2 separate regions of the Homo sapiens genome follow, and region 1 is reported to be linked to region 2. Evidence: microRNA targets listed by miRTarBase, many of them from high-throughput screens and not tested one by one. Region 2 holds a microRNA gene; the other region holds the end of a gene's coding sequence.
What was found. The annotated mature microRNA hsa-miR-5690 reads UCAGCUACUACCUCUAUUAGG and lies in region 2 at 913-933, shown strand. An mRNA with a match to its seed (bases 2 to 7 or 8) in the 3' UTR can be bound and repressed. Matches are read on the target gene's strand: a 7mer-m8 pairs with bases 2 to 8, a 7mer-A1 pairs with bases 2 to 7 and ends in A, and an 8mer does both.

Region 1 (3,096 bases), not on the chromosome of region 2:
GATGATGATTTGATGCCCATCAACCTTAGCTTGGTGGAGGCTTCATCTGAAAGCCAAGAAAAGAGCGACACAGACAATGACTGGCCAATCTATGTGGAGTCGGGTGAGGAAAATGACCCTGCTGGAGATGATTCTGATGACAAACCACAAATTCAGCCTAACTTATCAGACCGAGAGACACTTACGTAGCAATAAATTGGTGGGGAAGAGGAGGTTTTAAAACTTGTTAGTGCTCGTTCTGTTGTTGAAAGATACCATTTGTCCAATTTTGTGGAACCCTGAGAGGAACATTTTTTCACTGTTATTATATGTGCATTTTTATTAGACTATCTGATAGAGGTTGGATTTTGTGACTCAAAGGACAGATAACCTTTTTGTGTGGTGCCCTTGGTTTCTGAGGGCTTTGCTGGCCACTCCTTAATTCTGAGTGAGTCAAAGCAGGCCCTGAGGTCTCCTGTTTTTCTTGCTGTGTGTCCAAACTCTGGTTAGGAGAAAGATAAGAAAATCTCCAGGCTTGTTTTTATATTGATTCAGTCCTCTGCATTCCTTTGTTATCATCCTCTTTCTCTAAAAACCATTAAGTTTTGGGATCAAGTTTACCTTTGCCAAGCCTTTCCTAATGAATTCCACATTAAATTTTCTGGCAAAGTATTAAAGAGAAACCTTCATTGATATAAAGCAGGCAGGGCGGTCTGGCTACATGATCATAAAAGGTACTCCCTAAATCTAGAACAATTTTAAAGGCTTGGAATACTTATGGGCAGACGAACATGGGAATGATCTGAAAGGCTCATTATGGCATCCTGACTTGCCCAGTTGAATTAAATTTTAAGTTAGCCCTGAGAAGGGAGGCTATGACCCCAGGTCTGGATGGTTTCCCTGTCTGGTTTGGCATTTGACGATTCTACACATACAACCTGTTCTGTTATCATAAAACAACTCATTTGGGCAAAACTCAAAATGCTCCCCTACTTTTTCCAGCAATTTCCAAAAGCTGGAGCTGTGTAACTTGGAAATGTAGCTGCCTCTGGCATTCTTTTACTTAGTTTATGCTGATGTAGGGCAGGTGAGCCCAAAAATTGGGGCTTAGCCCAGAGGAGTTCTTGGCTTCACCCAGGAAAGAATTCAAGGGCAAGCCAGTGGTGTTAGACAGCAGCTTGTATTGAAGCAGCAGTGCCCAACAGCAGCTAAGGGGCCGCTCCTCGTGGAGCAGGGCTACACCATAGGCAGTGTGCCCAGAGTAGTAGCTCAGAGGCAGGTCGGCACTTATATTTATACCCACTTTTAGTTACATGCAAATTAAGGGGCAGATTATGCAGCAATATTTAGGAAAATGGTGGTAACTTCCAAGCCGCTGGGTGGTTGCCATGATAAGGGGCAGTGACTTCCAGGTGTTGCCATGGCAATGGTAATTGACATGGCACAGTGATAAGTGTTTCTTATGGAAATCTGCTTCCTGCACCACCCTCCCACCACCGCCCTGTTTTAGCTAGTCCTCAATTTGGTCCATGTCCGAGTCCGGCCTTTGGAGTTGAGTCCTGCCTTCTACCTCCTTGCCTAGAACTTTAATTGGAGGGAAAGTATAAGCCCATAATGCCAAGTAACATTTCTAAAATGTTCATCTTTTAAAAGATCTTCATGAGGGAAAGGGAAGGTTAGTAGCAGAACAGGTTTTTAAAAGCAGTCTACCTTTCGCCCACTTTCCAGCCACACAATTATTGTAACAAAAGAGGCTGAACTCTTTAAAGGGCTAAAGGGCAGGCAGTGTTAGGAATTCGGAATGTAATTGAAGGCAATTTCCATAATTTTGTCTTATGTTAAAATATCCAAAATGGATTTTAAAAGAAATCTTCTTGTCTTCCTTTAAGTGTAGTTGTCTTTCAAAAGGTGGTAAAAGTCACTTTTATTTCTACCTCTTGAACAACAAAAAAGTCAAAAACATTATAAATTGGCTTGTAAATGTTAGCCAAAGCATTAGACAGGTGTTTAAGTCGTACTTCTCAATAGTAGTTAAAACTGGAACAGTGCAACTCAAACTCTGGCCCACAGAGAGGCCCTGTTCTGTAAACTGTTTTCTACCAGTCTGCTACAAGGAAAGTCAGAAATTAAGAATACACATATAGAAATGTTGATAACACTTTGACATTGCTGTGACTCATGGCTTTGTCTTCTTGAGTGAGGTATGGACCAGTTCAGTTCTGGTCAGCTAGAGGGCCACATGGTGCAGAGGTTGGATACCAGCCTGTACAGCAGGACCACGTATTGGTCTGCAGTAGAATGGAAAATTTAAAACTTCTCTTATCACAGGTAGTTCGATAAATATCATTCTTGGCTGTGTGCGGTGGCTCACGCCTATAATCCCAGCACTTTGGGAGGCCAAGGCAGATGGAACACTTGAGGTCAGGAGTTCGATACCAGCCTGACCAACATGGCGAAACCCCGTCTCTAGCAAAAATACAAAAATTAGTCAGGAGTGGTGGCATGTGCCTGTAATCCCAGCTACTCAGGAGGCTGTGGCGAGAGGAACACTTGAGCCTGGAAAAGGTTGCAGTGAGCTGGAATCGTGCCACTCCACTCCAGCCTGGGCAACAGTGTGAGACCTTGTCTCAAAAAAATAATAATAAAATAAATAAATAAAAGAAAAATATTCTAGATCAAGAGTTACTCATTGAAAATTATCAGGGACCAGAGATATTTGTCTTATCTGAAATAAAAATACTAGCTGTGGCCAGGCGCAGTGGCTCACGCCTGTAATCCCAACACTTTGGGAGGCCAAGGCAGGTGGATCACCTGAGGTCGGGAGTTCAAGACCAGCCTGGCCAACATGGAGAAACCCCGTCTCTACTAAAAATACAAAATTAGCCAGGCATGGTGGCGCATGCCTGTAATTCCAGCTACTCAGGAGGCTGAAGCAGGAGAATCGCTTGAACCCAGGAGGCGGAGGTTGCTGTGAGCCGACATCACACCACTGCACTCCAGCCTGGGCAACAAGAGCGAAACTGTCTCCAAAAATGTATACATATATTTGCTGTTATTTTAAAAGAGGGATCTCAGCAAAAAGGAAACCTAAATGGATGTGTAGAAGATTTACTTGGC
Region 2 (3,231 bases):
CTCTACAGACCCATAGTGTGTATTGTACAGATTTAGATGAAGAAGATCAGAATGTTGGGTTTCTAGGTTTTTATCTTTTTAGAATGTTTAAGATAAACATTTATGGCCAGGCACGGTGGCTCATGCCTATAATCCCAGCACTTTGGGAGGCCGAGGCGGGCGGATCATGAAGTCAAGAGATTGAGACCATTCTGGCAAACATAGTGAAACCCTATCTCTACTAAAAATACAAAAAAAATTAGCTGGGTGTGGTGGCACGCGCCTGTAGTCCCAGCTACTCGGGAGGCTGAGGCAGGAGAATTGCTTGAACCTGGGAGGCGGAGGTTGCAGTGAGCCGAGATCGCGCCACTGCACTCCAGCTTGGTGACAGAGTGAGACTCCTCTAAAAAAAAAAAAAAAGAGGAGCATTTACTAGTGACATTCTAAAGGAGCAGAAGACCCTGAGTGCTGGTTTGAGAAGTTTAGATTTGTTGTGTTGGAACACTATTTAAGGTCCATGAATTAGAGAGTAATGTGGTGGGTGTGCTGTGTCAGAAAGGCTTCACTAGCAGTGTATACAGAATGAGTGGGAGTGAGTGAGCCGTCTGGAGGTAGGCAGGTCCTCTGGAGAACTGTAGTAATTCACAAAGGAGAGGAAGAAAACTCAAAATATGATGATAGCTATGGAGTCGAAAGTAAGATAAGAAACACAATGAATAGTTGGCGGTCCTATTGATTAAGTGGAGAAAAATTATATTGAAGTTGCAAACCTAGGAGAATGGCCAGATAATACAGATTATGAAATAAATGGAGAAGGGACCAATTTTGAAAAAGTTAATTTTCCTTAAAAACATAAGGAAATAAAAGGGTCCTGAAGTGAGAGAAATCAAAGATTGGAGAAGGAAAGAGGGAGAAATTATGCCACTTTTAATTTCAGCTACTACCTCTATTAGGATTTGGGAGTTATACTAATAGAGGTAATAGTTGAAATTAAGAGTGGATGAGTTCTGGTATGAAGTGGTTGATGGGGACAACTGTTGATTGACAACTGCATTTTAAGGAGAGGATACTGATAGTAATGGGAGATGGGATGAAAGAATGCCCAGGCAGAGAGGAAATTTAATAATTTCAGGAGTGGGGAAAGAATAAAGACAAATGTTACTGCAGCCTACCTTTCATTCTTTTACTGTGCATGAGATACTGTATTTGCTGGATGTTTTCCTGTAGATACCACATTGTTCTTCCTCCGGGAGTGGCATGTCAGAAAATTTGATGATTATTTTAAAGATGTTGAGTTTTATTCCTGAAATTGAATATGGTAACGGAAAAAGGGTCTTGGGTAGTTTTTGGTGTCATATGCTGTGTTCCTTTTAGTTCATAAAATCTTTCATCTTGTTTGAATATCTGTGGGTCTAAAAAAAAAACAGCTAATTTTTGGATAGGTAAAAGTCCAGATACTTTGTACATTTTAATTGATTATTTAAAAAATATTCCCTGGCTTTTAAAACTTGGCTAATACAAATTGTAAGAATCACCATCTTTTTAGAAGAACATACTGTGAATTCAGAATTTTTGCTGGCTTAGTGCTTGTCAGCATGGAGCCTGTTCACAGGAAATGCTTTAGAATCAGAGTCAGAGACCTGTGACACTTCTGGGGAGTCAGTATGTAAAATAGTTAGAGTGCAGGCTCCAGAGTCAGTCTCCCTGGTTCCACTGTTCACTAGAAGTATATCCTTGGATAGATTACTTAGCTCGTCCATTAGATTTGCTGTCTGGACGTGTCAGTAGTAACAATCTCAATGTCACACGGTTATTGAAGAGATCCATCATAGAGCTTACATTCTAGTAAGGAGAGACAGGCAGTATACAAATACTATAAATACACTGGAGGAAAACATAGTGGGGCTGATTATAGTCGATTTTTGCTCTTTTATTTCCGGTAACAGTAAAACAACTCTGATAAGAAAAGGTTTGAACATGAAGGCAGACCTGAAGCGAGTGAGGGAGTGAGCTATGCAGCTAACCAGGGAAGAGTTCCAGGTAGTGGGGATAGCAAGTGCAAAGGCACTGAGGAAAGGGCACATGGGAGGGGGCAGCAAGAAGGCCACTGTAGCCAGAGCAGTGAGTGAGGGAAAAGGAGAAATAATTTCAGAGATAGCGAGTGATCAGCATGTATAGGGTATTAAGCATAAGAAGGACTTTGGATTTTATCCTGTGTGAGATGGGAAACCATTGGAGTGCCAGAGTAATTTTTTCTTAAAGCTAGTCTGCTTGTCATTTCTTTTCTTAAAAATGCCTCAGTTCCCTGTTGCCTTTGGAATAATGTTCACGTACTTTACTTTGGCACACAAGGTCCTTCACAGTCAGGCCTCTGCCTGTTTATTTAGCATCATCTGCTTCTTTCCCACATGTACCCTTCACTTTAGCCAAGTGGGATCACATGCAGCTCCCTGGATGGGTCATGATGCTTTGTGTCTTCGCGTCTTTCTGTACCGTTTGCCCTGTGAGAAGCCCTCCCCCTCAGCTCACATGGTCACTGGCTCTGTTTTAGAGGGTCCTCTTTGTGCTCTTGCTCTCTCATCATTTCCACCCGGAGCCACTTTGCACTTAAGCTGCTTAGGCTTGAAACGTGCTGTGTTCTTTTACCAGCCTTGATTTTACTCTTGCCACACCCTTGCCGGTTGAAAGTATGCCTATCCAGCTCAGACACTGCCATCTTCTGCCTCCTTGGGACCCTCAGAAACACTTTGTAGCTCTCTTCTACCTAATAATAATTATTTGGAATTAAAATGTTTCTTTGCCTTCACAAAAAATCCTTGGGCTAACTTATTTCAGTTTTCTTTGTAGCTCCTAGAACAGGGTCTTACAGACATTTCATATTCAGTAGGTATTCATGGTGTGTAGGATTCATAGTATAATTAGAAAACTATTGGCTTTCAAACAACTAAGGGCCAAAAGCAGCAAAAATGAATGCACAATTAAAATGAGTTCCTATTAACAAAACAAATTTACTGTAATTATGATAGCTAGGTAATCCTTGTTCTCTTATATATTTATATATACTTACTAGTGGCACCAAATATTAGTATACCCAGTTTGAGATGCAGTTTGTTGAAATATATTTGGACACAGCCAGGCGTGATGGCTCACATCTGTAATCCCAGCACTTTGGGAGGCTGAGGTGGCAGGATCGCTTGAGCCCAGGAGTTCAAGAACAGCCTGGGCAACATAGTGCGACCTTGTCTCTACAAA

Region 1: the mRNA of ZBTB8B is a reported target of hsa-miR-5690. Seed matches in the 3' UTR shown: 7mer-m8 at 1,018-1,024.

Annotation. Positions count from the first base shown.
Region 1 is chr1:32,485,230-32,488,325 of GRCh38, forward strand. ZBTB8B (zinc finger and BTB domain containing 8B) reads left to right here. Exons shown (of 4, transcript NM_001145720.2): 4 at 1-3,096. The coding sequence ends at 189. Among named protein-coding and RNA genes, the nearest start is that of ZBTB8B, 22 kb to the left of the region's middle.
Region 2 is chr6:35,662,462-35,665,692 of GRCh38, reverse strand. MIR5690 (microRNA 5690) reads left to right here and starts at 904; the gene lies at 904-976. The region is part of intron 1 of FKBP5 (FKBP prolyl isomerase 5); the gene reads left to right. RefSeq lists enhancers at 1,996-2,495, 2,496-2,997.